Linked DNA regions of Homo sapiens: region 1 is linked to region 2. A link means that fine-mapping ties the variant in region 2 to the expression of a gene that starts in the linked region. Tissue or cell type: whole blood. Region 2 holds a variant in brackets; the other region holds the start of a gene. All regions are shown on one strand. Distances are from middle to middle.

The links. PIP is the estimated chance that this variant, and not a neighbour inherited with it, causes the effect.
Region 1: SMAD5 starts here. The variant in region 2 is fine-mapped to the expression of SMAD5 in whole blood (INTERVAL, PIP above 0.99).

Annotation. Positions count from the first base shown.
Region 1 is chr5:136,127,848-136,136,038 of GRCh38, reverse strand. SMAD5 (SMAD family member 5) reads right to left here and starts at 3,194. Exons shown (of 8, transcript NM_005903.7): 1 at 3,077-3,194. It overlaps SMAD5-AS1 (SMAD5 antisense RNA 1), which reads left to right and starts at 1,149. Exons shown (of 2, transcript NR_026763.1): 1 at 1,149-2,689; 2 at 6,258-6,526. RefSeq lists a silencer at 2,841-3,480 and enhancers at 3,791-3,840, 3,871-3,930.
Region 2 is chr5:136,177,596-136,185,786 of GRCh38, reverse strand. It overlaps SMAD5 (SMAD family member 5), which reads right to left. Exons shown (of 8, transcript NM_005903.7): 8 at 3,054-8,191. Among named protein-coding and RNA genes, the nearest start is that of SMIM32, 11 kb to the left of the region's middle. The variant T/C (reference allele first, on the strand shown) is at 4,556.

The DNA.
Region 1 (8,191 bases), 50 kb after region 2:
ACTGGTGGAGACAAGAATCATTCCTCAGGCTACTAGTATCCCTTATAAAAGGGAATCTTACTCAATGTCTTTGACCCTATGAGAAGACGGGCAAATCATAGGCTATAAGCTGCTTGTAACATTTGAAGAAATAAACTATTTGCCTTCTTTGTGGTTAGTGTACAGAGAGACAGAGAGACAGACAGACAGATACAAGGAATATAGATCGTCTAGAAGTAAAAACAGGGAAGACTGATAAACCAAGAGAATAGACACCTATATCCTCAAGCGTACTCAAGTCAGCTCTGAAATTCACCCAGATGTGTGGCTCATTGCCTAGACCAACATATACATCTGGTAATAATAAACACTGATATGTCATAAACAAAAAGAGTTTCTTTAACTCTACAAAGTACTAGTAATATTAAAATTTACATAAAGACAAAGAATATATATGAAATAGATTTTTTTAGATGGTATTTCAACTTAAGTAACTGTATTAAGAAATGAAAAACTGGTATTTTACTGCCTAGTTTTCAAAACACTAAAATCTTTAATTTGACCAAGTTACAAATCTGTTTTCAGTAGAGGGAGAAAACACACTGCCTCCGTTCAATGCAAAGGACAAAAAAGATCATCACTGCAAATCATAATGTTTGGGTTCATGATGAAAACAGGAAACAGACAGGCTGCCCAGGTATAATTATGGTTGTAATCTAATGTGCCTTCAGGTTCAGCCAAGAATTAAAACCCAGTGAAGAGGGTAAGCAGAATTTACTTGCCTCTACTTTGCTGCAGAATGCAACTTTTAATAATACTCCCAGCAACATGTTACATAACCAACAGTAAACAACAATCTGATTCAAACCTCATTAGTAACAACATTCTGCCACTGTCTCCCACTGAAATTAATAGCTGACTTTGCCAGAGGGGAAAGAAATCCAACACATTATCAATCTACCCATTTCTGTGGCGCCTACCACAGTGAACCAGACACGCAGATAATACTACCAGATCTGTACAGAACCTACGAAAATATTTTATTCTTTTTTTCCAGTTTGCTGCTCTCTTCCTCCTTTTAACTAGACCATATCATGTGGATGCCTTTAAAACCTGAGAGTAAAGTCAGTTGAGAAGGTTAATCTAACTTTTCTTGCTTATTTCAGCTATGATCTGAAAGGAATGGAAGCACAAAATGATGAATAAGGTATTTTTAACAAAGATACATGGGTAAATTAACAGCAGTAATGTAAAAAAGACTGAGGGAGCAACAATGTGGAAAGGGAAGGAAAGGAAGCTGTATAGGAACAATCACACAAATAATCATCAAAATTAAACTTTATAAATCTAAACATAGTATCTACAACCTTTATGAAGGTTAAGTTTTGTTAAATTGTCTAAGTTTTGCATTTTTACAATTTTCACTGTAGAGAAAAAAATATTAATAGTTACCAAAGGAATAAAAGACTAAAATAATTTGTTATACATCTGCAAATAGCTCCTTAAATTTGGAACACTAATTTCATAATGATATTTGGATCCATAAATGTGAAACTGTCACACTGAATGTAGGTACTGTTTTCCCCACAATGGATACTACTGCATTGGCATCTAGCAGAAATTGTAAGCTATTTGGAATGTTACTAAACCTACTGGGACTAAGGTTTTCAATCTTTTGTCTTTCAAATTAAAATTAAAAACTAATTCACTCTGGGCAATTCAGGTACTCTAAGGAAATTCAAGTACTCTAGTTTTAAATACGAATTTTCAAAAACGCAACCCAAGTACCCTTTCCTCTCAACTTCTGTGAGGCCAAGCCACGACCTCCACCTATTCAATCTTTGCTGCTAGATAACAACCCTTTTGGTAGTGCTAGGCAACAGGCATGATGTGACAAACCTAGACATCAAAACTTTTCCACAGAAAGATAAGGTAAACAAGATATACTTAGCGCCACACCCATTTAAATGCACAAGCAACCAAAATTGCTCCCTCCCCCCGCAACACCCCCCCCCCCCCCCCAAAGCTCCAGCTGGTCAGGAAACATTGTCTTTACAATCAAGATAAACATCTGGCTCAGGGTGTTCAGCCATTCCTCACCTACAGGCTTGCCTAAGCCCCATTCTCCAATGCCATCACCACCAGAACCGGAACATTCTGTTGGGAAGCCGGCAAACGTCCAAATACCCCAAGTATCCTCGCCCGAGTTCTGCAACCAAAAATCTGTTTTGGCTACTGAGCATGCTCAGACTTAAGACGGGCGCGCCACATGGGAGTTTTCAAAGCTTAGGCTCCAAACTCCACGTAGTAACAGCAGCTGAAAGGAGGAGAGGGGAAAAGGGGAGGGGAAGAGACTGGAATATTAATTTGAGCCCTGATATTGAAGTATAGGACCCGGCCAGCGGCTGAATATGGTGAAGGCAAAAAGACGCTGCTTTGGCATTCTCTTTGCAGCACAGAGAAGTTTACATGAAGTAGAAGAAATCCTTGCAGTGGTGAAAACTGACATGGCAAGTGGCAGAAACCAGGTCTAACTACCAGCTGATTGCAGTAGCCGGTCACAACTGCCCAGAGTGTAATTCCCACCGATAAGCGCGGATCCTTATCTTTGAAACACAAAGCGACGGCGGCACGGATTCATCAAGCCATTGGACAGCTTCGCAGTGCAGCAGCCCAGGCTGCCCGGCCGAGCACCGCAGTCCTATCAAGGGTGTGTATCCAGGGTGGTACATCCGATGAGTTAGGAAAGCAAACCGCTCCCCAGGACAGCGCGGGGTCAGGGGGTCCCCTCCAGGGCGTCCCAGACGCCTCCCTCCAAAGTCTGGGCGGTAACAGCGGGGCTGGGACGAGGGCCAGCCCCGGCCCCGCCTCAGGACGCCCCGGGCAGCCAGCGAGGCCTCCGCAGCCGCTGGGCCGCACCGTGTCCGCCAGCCGGGACCCCGGCAGGCCAGGACTCGGCCTACCTCCCGCCCGACAGGCCCTGGGTCGTTTCCGCTCCGTCCGCGGCCGAACGCCCCCGCCTCGGCCCGAGTCCGCCGGGGCAGAGCCTGCAGCCCCCAGTTCCCCTCGCCCGCGCGCGCCGGGGACCCTCACTCACTCGCGAGCCGGCTAGGCGCGCTCTCCCGACGCCGTCGCTGCGCTTCTCCTCGCTGCAACTTTATTAGCAGCTCGGCCGCGGGACACGCGCACGGCGCCCGCTCGCCCAGGACCCGGATGAGGGAGGGAGGGAGAGGGAGCCCGGGAGGACGCCCGCTGGGGTCGGCGCATGCGCGCCAGAGGCGGAGTGACCGCTGCGGGACCGAGGGAGGGGTGTCTTGCCCGGGCGGCTGAAAGAAGCCTCCGCGCCGGGCTCCGCGCCGGCCAACGCCGACTTCCGATCAGCTGGAGGCCTTCGCGTCGATGGCCAGGCCTGGGAATGGGAATCAGATAGCTCCCACCACCACCACAGTAGGCGCTAGAAGCTTCCACTAACCAAATCAGTATACATTGTAATAAAATTAAGTAATTGTCCTTGACACAGACAACTGGAGGTTTTCTGTCACATACAAAGTGTAAACAAAAACATCTTCAGATACGACTTAGCTACTTTTATTGATCTGTAATACAAATCTGAATGAAGAGTCTTCTTTCTGTGCAAAGTAGCTTCAAAACATGTTTCTGAGCATCTTACAGCTTCTTACTAGATGCAGCACTAAAACCCCTCCCACGGGGCAATCCTGGAACCCTTGAGGGCCTGTGGAAATGGAGCGAGTGCCCACCCTGGAGTTCCAGGAGTGGGACTGCCCATACACTGGATCGCAACCCCAGTTGTTCAAGACACATAGCCTCTCCACCTCCTTGTGGGGAGGGAGATCCCGTGGGGACCCAGCCCCTGGACAGGCGGGGCCACTGAGTTGCAGAGACACCATCCATAGGCTTATATACACCACCCCATCTCCTGGACTCTCTTTTCTAAGTAATTGGAGCTCTTCTCGATGCTTTTTCCTCCAAATTTCCAAAACCGTCAGTATTTCCTAGAATATAATATTGGTACCACATAGGGTACCCGATTTGAATAGTACTAGTAAGAAAAAGCTTTTGAATAATTTTGTTTTTATTTGAAAAGGTCAATACTGGCTCTCCAATGTTCTATTATAGGTTTTCTTTTTAAAATAAGTAAAAATCAAAATCGGGGTCATTTTGGAATGCTCTTTGACACCCTAATCCAATCCATCAGAAATTCTACTGACTCTTTCTTCAAAATTTATCCTAAATCTGACCATTTCTCACACCTCAATTGCCACCTCCATGGCCCGAGCCAGGGTCATCTCATCTGACACACAAATGGCGCAGCCACTATTTTGCTCCAGGCTCTAGAAGTTTATTTCTGTGGAGAAGAAACTAAATAAATGTCCAGAAGTCTCTGCATTAGGGGTGGCCATCTGAAATGGTGACAGAGGGCTAGTAAAGGAGTGAAGGGGAAGTGGGGGAAGAGACCAGAGAGTGAGTGTCTAGTTCCAGAGACCAAAGGGGTCACTGCTATTTCATTCCAGCCAACTGTTACCATAGGGAAATGTGGGAATAAGGACCCAGTGTTGGCAGATATTCTGATTTTTCAAGCAAAGCTGGAAATTTAGATTTTTATGTGAAAATCTCAATTATATCTGTTTAGCAACTTCTTTCTATTTTTCTCTCTCTTTGCCTGTCTCCTGCCCGCCCCCCACCCCGCTCCCTTCCTCTCACTCTGTTAGACATTCTGGAGGCCAACTACATGCAAGCCAAACAAAACAAATCCATGGTCCCGATTTAGCCTACTGGCCACCAGTTTGCAATTTCAGGTCTCCATCTTAAACTTCTTTACTACATCATAAACTTTGAGAAAGTAAAGTCTGTGTACTTTAACTCTTTGTCACACTCACTGATTATTTGTTGTTAATTCAGAAGTTTCCAGCCCTTGGAAGGCAAATATTTCTGGAGCCTGCATGGGTTTACAACTCCCAGAAGTGCATATAATCCTGCCTTGGAGGATACGTTTTTTTTTTTTCCAGAACTGATGTTTGCAGAGTGCTTTGTTGAACATTATAGGACATAACAATTTGGTTTAAATATTTTGTATAGTAGAGATACTCCTCACTTCAAACAGCCAATAAAATCCTTCCCAAAACAAATTATTTGCTGTTTTGCAGTCACTGTACATACGTCAGAAGAATTTGTGATTACAAGATTCCTTTTCATAATCACATATGTAATCTCATAGCCAACAGTTTTGCTTCCTAAGTTATGTGTCCACATACTGATCAAATCAGCCAGCAACTCCAGCCTCTCCAACTTGCTATTTGAGCTCAGTTTAGGTCTAAAGTTGGAAGAGATAACATAGAAGAGAGGAATGGAGATTTTAGTACCACACCAGCAGCCTTCCGAAGGTCTAAGAAATTACCTAGACCTCAAAGACTATGGAAAATCAGAGGGATCACTAAATATCTATACAGTCAAAAACATTATAAAACAGCAAATGAACAGGAATCCCAGAACCATAAGAATGAAGTAAGGAAGTCCCTGTTTTTGGCAATCAAATGGGATCTAAGAACAAATGTAGAACAGGATGATCTGAACAGATAGACATAGTCAGTGGGGCATCAAAATAGACAAACTGCTTTTTTCATTTAGCCATTCACCTGATCAAGAAGACCAGATAAAAGCAACTCCAATACTCAATTTTACTTTACTTGTAGAGAAACCTATTTCTGGACAATTTAGTCCTATAATTCTCAACCAGGGGTGACTGCACCCCCAGGAAACATTTGGCAATGTTTAAAGATGTTCTCGGTTGTCACAACTAGGAGGGCGGTGCTACTAGCATCTAGGCGTTGCAGGTCAGAGACACTGCTGAACATGCTACAATGCACAGAACAGCCTCCTTCTACCAAAAATTAGTCAACCCAAAATATCAGTTGTGCTGTGGTTGAGAAACCCTGATTTAAATCCCAAATAGTTTTTCTTGGGTTGGGTTGATGTTTACAGAAGAAATGATCCTTTCCTTTGAATTTTTTCAATAATCATTTATATTATCAATTTCATGTAGAGAATTAGCCTAAATGTTTAGCCCATGACCTACTCCCTCCTTGAGTTTTTCAGGTCTAAGAAGGAGGCAACTTTCAGGAAAGGTGAGACAATATATGGAAGATGAAGAACTGGAATAATTTAGAAACATTTCTGTATTTTTTAATTTTAAAATGTCTAGTAATTGAGGCAAATTGTTTTTGGTTTGAAAATCATTAATAAATATCTTAATTTTGTAGTTTGCTGTAGCTCAGAAGGCTCTGCCTACATGACTACTGCATACCCTACTGGGAGAATTGGAAGAATGTGATGATGGTAGGAGTCACCCAGCATAGAAGCATGAGTGAATGACATCCCAGAGATCTGCAAAGGATCCTGGTAGCCACTTCAAAGACTTTTTCTCCCTTCCTCAGACAATCATGGCACATGGACATCAGAGGAAGAAATGGCGAAGTTTGTATGACTCCTCCAGCAGAGTCCTTGGAAACAATAAAGCTTCCTTTCCAAATTCTGAGAATTCTGTGTTATTCTTTAATTGGCAGACTGCCCACTGCACCCAATTCTTAATATTGGAAACAGTGCAGAAGCCAGAACTCAACTGAGGAGTTCTGAGATGAGTGAGGTTCCAAGGAAATGATGTGCAGAGGCGCACCCCACAATCCAGTAAGAAAAAGCTCATCATGTTTGTCAGAAGAGATTTCATGTCAGTCTTTAACAGAATGAGCAAACCTTCCATGCTGACCAGAGAATATGCAAAAGTAATTTTATCCAATATTTGAAAGGAGTTTTTTCCAGTAAAATTTTGGTGTTCTGGTGTGAAATGCTTCCCTTATAATCCACAGACCCTTTATTTTCATAGCTCAGAAGTTGAGATCATAATGTATTGAAAAATGAAAAAGTAAAAGAATGACAGCTGCCTCCACTCAAAGCACAGGAATCTGGCAGCCACAGACTCCTTGAAGCTTCAGGGACGGATATCAGAGAATCTGTGACCCCACCCCCGGGAATTAATGTGCACATTTTTGTGTATATACCTACATACAAATTTTCTGCAGAAAAAGCCTATAGCTTTCATCAGATTCTCAAAGGTTTCCTGACCTCCACATGTTTGCAGATGCTTAAGACAGTGGTTACTTTACACGTGGTATAAGTTTAATGTGTCCATTTTAAGGTATCTTTTCTTCTCTTTTTCAGAGCAACATAATTAGGAGACTCCTCTCTAGGGAAGGCAGCTTAATGTAGAGTCTAGAAACCTGGCTTGCCTGTCTCCAGCCATCTGCCACATTAAAGAAGGCCTCCTATGGCTGGAATCCAAGACACAAAATTAAAAGGGTTGCTTGCACCCAGAGTCATAAAACAAAGAGGCTTTCTGAAGCAGGCCTTGGAGCGAACACTCATTTCTTCCTGACTTAAACAGCATCTGTTTCTCCTGATGGCGAACACCCCCCAAGTTAACTTGAATAACCTCCGGGGTTCTACCTTCTCAATTTTCATCCTCAGAGACAGTCTCAGATAAGCCAAACCACATGTGTACCCCACCACAAATCCAGAGCAGCAGGTGAAAATCTGAAAGTGTTATGGAATTGAGGAGAGGGGAAAGAGATGAAAATTTTGTGTTCTCTAGGAAGCTCTTTAACTACATGAAGTCTTAATCATGAGAACTCTGATGCCAGACTTCTTTGTTTGAACACAGACTATCTCACTACCTGTATAACTATGCACAAGTTTCTTAACCCAATCTCTGCCTCAGATTCCTCATCTGTAAAATGGGGATAACTGTAGTATCAGCTTAATAGAATTATGAGGATTACATGCATAGAGACTTGCAAAGTTCTTAGAACAGTTCCTGACACAAAGTAAGTGCTATACAGGTGTTTATTTTAAAAACACATGTATTCTCCTGATATGCCAGCAATTTCTAAGAACGAATTAGCAAATCTGTTTGTCACATAAAGTGTGTATTCATTTTACAGTACAATAGACCCTCTTCTCTTCTTACTCCACTAGGTAATCTCATTCACTCCCAGGCCTCTAGTACCATCTGTTATAGACAATTCCCAAATTTCTGGTCCCATCTTGAACTTGGCTAATGGACGCCAGACCCGTAAGTTCAACTACCCTCTTACCATCTCTACCAGACTGCAGTAGTTTGGATTTTGTCTGCCCCAATACC
Region 2 (8,191 bases):
TTTCTTCTTCCTGAACTTCTCCCCCTACATCACCCACACACACTCTTCAGCAAAATTAATCTTTTATTCTGAAGCACAAATATGGTTCATGTATTTGTTTTATCATACGTTCTCTCTCTCAAAGGTATTCCTTGCTCCCACTCCCACCTGAGTGCAATGAAAGGCTTGCCCCTTATGTACAACAGTTAGGGAAGGATATTATGGGGTCTAAACCAGGGCACTAAAATCACACTACAAAATTTGTAACACCCCAGCTTCTGTAAGCTGTGTAATTAAAAGTACACTTTTTGGGGTTATTTTCTCTTGTCAAGCGTATCAAGGAAACTATGCCCTTCCTACTTTCTTTGGGAAAATATTAAATGTTAACAGGTTAAAGCTCTAACTTGACTATTAATTTTGCAGGTTCTACAAGCAACAATTCCAAGAATTTGATAACTTTGGAGCAAAAGTCCAAAAGTTCAAAGAGAAAGGATATGAGTGCTTTCTTAGCTGAATTTCCCCTTCTTCTCAATTATACTTTAGCCAGCTCCCACAATACCCCACCCCACATCAAACCACTTCTCAGGCATAAAGAGAGCTAATAAAACATTGAGCTAGAAGCAATTCAACTAAGAAGTAAATATTACATTATTTAAAAGGTAAATTCTAATACTTAAAAAATTCACTTCTTGCTTCAGTACTCTCATTCATTCAACAAATATTGGTATGCTTACTTATAACATATCAAGAACTGTTCTAGCAGTGGCAACACAGGTCTGTCCTCACAGATCTTACATTCCCATGAGGTAAGACAGTCAATAAACAGGGTAAAGAAATATATATGTTGGATGGTGATAAACGCTATGCAGAATGAAAGGCTTTCTTAGGTACAAAGAACTCAAGAAACACTTTAGAACCAAACCAATTTCTCTGAGAACCCTTTCAAAAAGAGCTAGAGCTCCATCTATAATCAGCAAAGTATCTGTCAAAGAAAGCCAAGGATCAATGTACAGTGACTACCAGAACAGGTTAGAAGGGCACACTCATAAACCTTTGCTACTGGTTTGGGGGTTTCAGTTTTAACTTTTCTGTTAAAATTCTCAGCATTTATCTCAAATGAAAGTATTATTTAAAATGAAATAATGAAGGAGGTTTATTAGATGGGAAGGGGTAACTGATTAAGACAAAGTATAAGGATCTTTTCAAAATCCATCTCTAAACATCAATAAACTGCCTCAGAAAATCTCTCACTAGGAATTATACACACACCCATTTGATATAATATGGATAAGTCTTCACCACCAGTCTAAATCCCTCTTCCCACCTCCCATCCAACATACGTTAACATGGAGATGGTTAAGCAAGCTGCCCATAGCTCTTCTTTGAATTTTCCCTATAGCCCCATTACCCTTTTTTTAAACAGAAAAACTGATTTAGATAGAAAGAACAAGTTTTGTTTTTGCAAAGCTTATGATAGACTTACAAACTCAATGACAAAAATCAGTAATATTTAAAATGTTAAATGGGAAGGGTGTTTTAAAAATGCTTCCTTCTTTCAATCATAAATACTACAGAGCTCTAAATAAATCTTCCTTATAAGCATTGCTGCAGTCTACTGACAATCTTAAAAATGTTTATAAAACGATAGCTGCATCAAAACTGCTGTAATACAAAATAGTATTAGCCACTGTCCCAACCCCTCATCACCTGAACTGTTTTGGCTACAGCAACCTGAAAACTAATTATCTTAAACCCAAGAGAAGCCAACATCCTCTTAGTGCTCACTGAACCTTCTTCCGCTAGGACAAGTGTGCTTTTTTAAAAAATACACTTCTAAAACAACCAGTGATGTTGCTACAAAATACCTTACAAAATGCCTTTTAAGTAAAAAGACATAGGAAGGAACTGATTCTCAGAAATTGGTAGGAATGTCCAATCTTTTGGCTTCCCTAGGCCACAGTGAAGTATAATTATCTTGGGCCACACATAAAACACACTAACACTAACGATAGCTGATGAGCTAAAAAAAAGAAAAAAAACTCGCAAAACAATCTCATAATGCTTTAAGAAAATTTACCAATTTGTGTTGGGCCGTATTCAAAGCTGTCCTGGACCACATGCAGCCCATGTGTGCAGGCTGGACAAGCTTGAATAGAGTCTTTTTTATCTATTAAAAAAAAAAAAAAAAAAAAAAAGAACAAGTGCTTTTATCTTTATCCTTTAGGGTTAATATGTAGTTTGGGTTTTTCTACATTTCTGGCAAGGGCACATGATTTTTCACCATTCCTTTTTTTTTTTTTTTTTTTTTTTTGAGACGCAGTATCGCTTGTTGCCCAGGCTGCAGTACAATGGCATGATCTTGGCTCAGTGCAACCTCCACCTCCTGGGTTCGAGCGATTCTCCTGTCTTCAGCCTCCCAAGTAGCTGGGATTACAGGCACGCGCCACCACACCCGGCTAATTTTTGGATTTTTAGTAGAGACGGGGTTTCACCATGTTGGCCAGGCTTCTCTTGAATTCCTGACCTTAGGTGATCCACCTGCCTCAGCCTCCCAAAAAGCTGGGATTACAGGCCTGAGCCACTGTGCCTCGCTCACCATTCCTTTCTAATTAGAATGAGTTTGCATGTCTTGTATATGTAATTCAGAGGTTGGTAAAAGTGTGCAACACAGTGACAATGATGCAAAGTCAGTCTGTGATTTAAAATTTTTTCAAAAAAGAAGACAAAAGGAAATAAAAAATTGTAAATTCACAAAGTGGATCATCAAAGGTTGATACACCGAGGTCAAGCAACATAAGAAGTAATTATTCTGAATCAAAGAACTAGTGGAAATGTAAAAGATAGTAACAATTTTAATATTTGAGTTCTTATGTTCTAAGTACTGTTCTAAATACTGTATTTGTATTACACTTCAATTAATCTTCCCTCAAATCCTTCCTATGAAGTAGACTTTTCCTTTACAGGTCAGGAAAGTGAGGCATAGAGTGGTTAAGCAACTTGTCTAAGCTATGAGGCCCATGACTCAAACGCAGGCAGGCCAACTCCAGAGCCAAAACAAAAAAAGACACATTAAGCAGGTTTTGAGGTTTATTAAAGTAAAGAATTAGCAAACAATATGCAAAAACAAAGTTCTTAAGAGTTATGGCTTTCAAAAGCACAATATAGTAAAACCTAATACATTTTCATAAGTATCAAAATAACAGAATTGAAGCATGTTGCTAGAATTTCAGCTTCTACAACATAAACAGAAGCACAACAAATACAAATAAGCAGCAGACCTACAGTGCAGCCACTAGCTTGGTCTTCATTATCTGTATATGAAATATCTTTTTAAGAAAATGTGGGCAGGTAGATACAAACATTCTATTTCCATGATTACAATCCTCTTCGATTTTAAAATAAGTGAATTTCAAAATACAACTTACGCCAACCATATTTAAAAAAAAAATCACTTGCCTAACCATTATCTTCTAGAGTTCCTATAGTTAAAATACTTTATGAATAAATCAATGCAACATCATCTTCAATGATATTAGAAGGGAAAATCTGACCCTAAAAGATTTTTTTTTTTTTTCCACAAAGAACTTGGGATTCTTTGGCCTTACTGGAGTTTTGTTATAGCTAACACCAGTCTGTATTAATTAAGAAGGCACTATTAATGAGGGACGGAAAAATCTACCTGTACACAAAATTCTGTACTTTAACAGCATCTTCAAATAAACCTTTAAAGGATAATGGTTTACGATCATTTTAAGAATTTTAAGAACTGAGTTATTTGGACAAGAACCATACAAACCTTTTTCACTCTGCCATGAATGATCGAAGAATCCTGCTCTAGGACTGGATCTTTTCAGAGAAAATAACTTATCACCTGTTTTACTGCAGTTGCTACTAGCAATTATTATATAGCATGTGCTCTTCAAAACAGAAATAAAAATTGATGTGTGAAATCCCTTTCATTGGTTTTGGTAAACCATCCAATTTTGGGCTGTCATTTCAATTATAATACAGTTGTATTTTAAGAGAGAAGATAATCCAATATAACAAAGGCTTGATAAATATTGTCACTCTGTAATCAGGACATACTAAACTGTAATTCAGCGAATTCCAAAGAACTTTCCAGGTTTCTGTCCAGCAGGTAGAATTCTTTGTTTATGCAGAAGAAATGCCTTCAATTCTCACATTCGATTCAGGCATCTTGTGTGATAAGAAAAGCTCCTAAGAATCTTACTTATATCAATGAGAAAAATGCTGCTGCTCTGGGAGACCTGAGATTACTCCCCAAAAAGCTGCCCTAATAATATCTGATACCACCTATAAACCACCACTTAGGAAAACTCTCTCCATAAAAATCACCAAACACTTCTAAAACCACCAGGCTACCTACTACCCTAAGATACTTGCTCATCTAGCTGAACAATATAACGATGACACACATTTATATTCATACCCAAGAGATTAGGTGAGGATTTAACTAGTAAGACAAAGAAGGGATCTGACATTCTTTAAAGTTAAAATGTAAGTCCAAAATATAAGTCATCACAAAAGGCTGAACTCAGTAATTATCAAAAAATTC[T/C]TCCTTCCTCATGAAGTAAAAAGGATATTTATATATTTTAAGTGGCAAAGGTGATAATCATCCAAAGTACTATTAAGCAATTGATTAGAAAAAGTATAAAGAAATAGATCTAAATTGGTACATCAGATGTTCTCTATCACAGAAGTACAGCACTTTGATAGGTACTATCAAACTTTTTAGAGTTTCTCTGCTGTTGGAAGAATTTCATTTTTTGTATAAACATTCTCTTCCAACAAAATACTACCACACAGGGGAAGGAACTGTTCCCCACAGGTACCCTCAGGTAATATGGAAGGTTTTTAACATGAACCCCAGTTCTAATCTTGACAACAGATTTCAGGTATGAGTACTTAATAATCACTTCACATCCTGAAGGATATCTTACTCTCAAATGTTATGAAAGGTATAAAATAGCTACATCCTCTATCTGTGCCATTAGATGTGGCTTGTTGAACTGTCTAGTACTCTTACTCTGGATTTCACCTCAGAAACCCAACCAATTCTATTATTTTTTTTATATAGCAACAATACAATGTGAAAAATTATTTATATTCTGACACACATATTTGACATTTTGATTGACGTCTTCCTTAAATCTCCTCTTAAAAAGAGGGTTAGTTTTAGCAGATCAATAACACGCCTACTAGTTTACATTTCACGTCAGCCAGGCAATACTGACCAGACCAATACTGACCAGACCATAAATATTATGTAGAAATGTTAAGCAAATGAATCTCTTATATCTTGCTTTTTGCCAATCAATATCTTTTTGTTGCTTTAATTCATTACTGAGATTTCATTCTATTCTGCTGTTTGCATTACCAAACTGGTTGCAATTTTATTATTCCCAGATTCTGTCTTTTCAGCCAGCATAAATATATTGTACATGCTATGTGATTATTCTAGTGGTGCTAGAATTTTACTATAAAACATTCTGTAGATTAAATTAAAACATATAACCATAATTTGCTAAAATGGTTTCTTTCAGAGGTACTTTCCTTTCACTAGCCAGTTTTTAAAAATCTTACTAGCAAATTTTATCTCCTATACATAGATATATGAAAATCCTTAGGGACTGTAAGAATAGCTGGACTGAATAAAATTTTCATTTAAAGTCCAAGGGTGGGGAGTTGACAACTTTTAGGAGATACAACAGGCTTATAGTTCTCTGTCAAACTCTTAGTTGTTAATAGCTTTAGTACTGTCATTCATGAGACACAACTCCTAAGAGAAAACAAAGAAAAGGCCAATCACGTAAGATCTTGTTAACTCAAGACTGTGACATAATGACCCCAAATAAAAACAATTTTTAATTAACTCACAGTAGAAAACACCAATAAAACAACTCTCTAATTTCCACTAGTTTACTGCAGCCCAATGAAGTTGATTACATACATCAGTCATTCAATTGGAGTAATTTTTTCCTACAAATTTGTTCCAGAGATCATGCCATAAGCCTGGTTAAGTAAAAGAATGATGAAAATGCCAAAGTTCTATCAAGTAAGCAAATATTCTCTTTCGTGTGGCAGACAGAACTCTGGAAGAAACAGAATGCATGTCATGTAATACTTACATTTAAGGCTCAGGTGACTGTCAGAAAGTATTTCTTTTACCCAGCAAAGAACTGTGAGCTGAAACACAAATGGCAGTTCATCTGAAAGAACTAAAACCATCCACTGGCTGCACATTGAAAAAGCAATAAATAATGACACAGAAAACAAAAGAAATTGCATAATTCTTTCCTCGAAAATGCTTTTTTTTTTCTTCACAAGAGCAGAAAGGACAAAGTGGAAAGTCAAACCAAACTAACATTTTAAACAGAAGAATGATATGACTCCATATACTTTCAAAAGGCACCAGAAAATAAAGCTTTCACTGATAGGTAAATTAGGTCATTTTTTTTTTCCAAAATAATTTCTTCATTCTCATGTCATAATTAAGTGTCCATTTGACAGCTCCTGAGAAAAAAACTGGTTCAAAGTTCTTTATCCAAAGCCAAAAACATGATTGATTAAATGGATATTTTGGAGTTCGTTCATGTCTTTTCTCTCTAAAGATTGTGTTTTGGGAGACTAGCTTCCACATAAGTACTTAAAAAATGGAAAAAGAGGATCATCGATAAATGAGAGAAGAGTCTATATTCGTTGATGGGTGAGTGTTTTGTTTTGTTTTGTTTTTTGAGGCAGAGTCTCGCTCTGTCGCCCAGGCTGGAGTGCAGTGGTGCGATCTCGGCTCACCACAACCTCCGCCTCCCAGGTTCAAGTGATTCTTCTGCCTCAGCTTCCCGAGTAGCTGGGACTTCAGGCACGCACCACCATGCCCAGCTAATTTTTGTATTTTTTGTAGAGACAGGGTTTCACCATATTGGCCAGGCTGGTCTCAAACTCCTGACATCATGATCTGCCTGCCTCAGCCTCCCAAAGTGCTGGGATTACAGGTGTGAGCCACTGTGCCCAGCCGAGTGTTTTAAAATCAGCTATCCCTACATCCACTGCTGATTCATTTAGTATCAAATCAGTAGCCTTATCCTTGGGGCCCAACTGAAGAGCCTCCTACGGCTCCAGTGCATAGGTCCTTGCGTAGGGAGGCTGATACAAGTAAGCTGACACTTGTAAGAGCAATGGGATTAACTACATGATTCTCCAGCACTGATAACACCCATAAAACTGTAGGGAATTAAAAAGGCACCTTAAGTTGGAGCTATAGAATAACAGTCTTATAACCTAGGTTGAAAGTAAAACAAAAACCAGAAAAAAGCATAACTTCCTACAAATGTAATCTATAAATTGCAGTGTTTGTTAATACAAAAAAGGTACCAAGGACGTAAGGATAAGCATCTAAGTCCAAGTCACTTGAGTGTATTTTATCAAAGGTTATGCTAAAAACTGTCACCCATAAAAGTGCAAAATAAAAGATTAATGCATGTCAAAAATAGAGTTCTTGCAACATTGTCCAAAAGCAGCAAACATAGTTGAACAAGGCTGTGCATGCACTGTCACTAGCTATAAAGTAATGCTTATGACAGATTTTGAGTAAATGACATATACTTGAGATCAGTTATTTGCAAAAATTTTTTTAAAAAAGGAAATGTCTTACAAAAGATATATAGCATGAAGTCACATTACACTGAAGAACACTTATCTGTATTAAATGTAAATTTTATGTCATCTAGAAAACTATCATTTTGCTTTTACTGAACACTACCAGTTACAGCAGTGCATAGTGTTCATTCAAATAAAACTTTATAGTTTCTTTTAAGCCCCTACCATACACTTTTGCAAAACAATGAATTGTACTTTTTTTTTTTAAGTTGGTGGGACAAAGAAACTGGTAAAAGTACAGCTTCTGGAAGATCGAGAGTAGGAGGGAAAACTTACTCTTCACTGTATATGCCCTCTTATAAGCTACTATAATTTTTCATCATGTGATGCATTTTCAAATAAATTTAATAAAAAATTGTTAGGGCAATAAAGTAAAAGCATGTTCCAGTTTAAGATCAATGCCAAATTTCTGAACTGGGGCATAATACTTACTCTGCATCTTTTACAACACTTCTAAGAGTTAATCACATGAACATGAATACAAACAAATGTAGATTCATCACAAAATACAAATGTATTGGTCACAATTATGTAG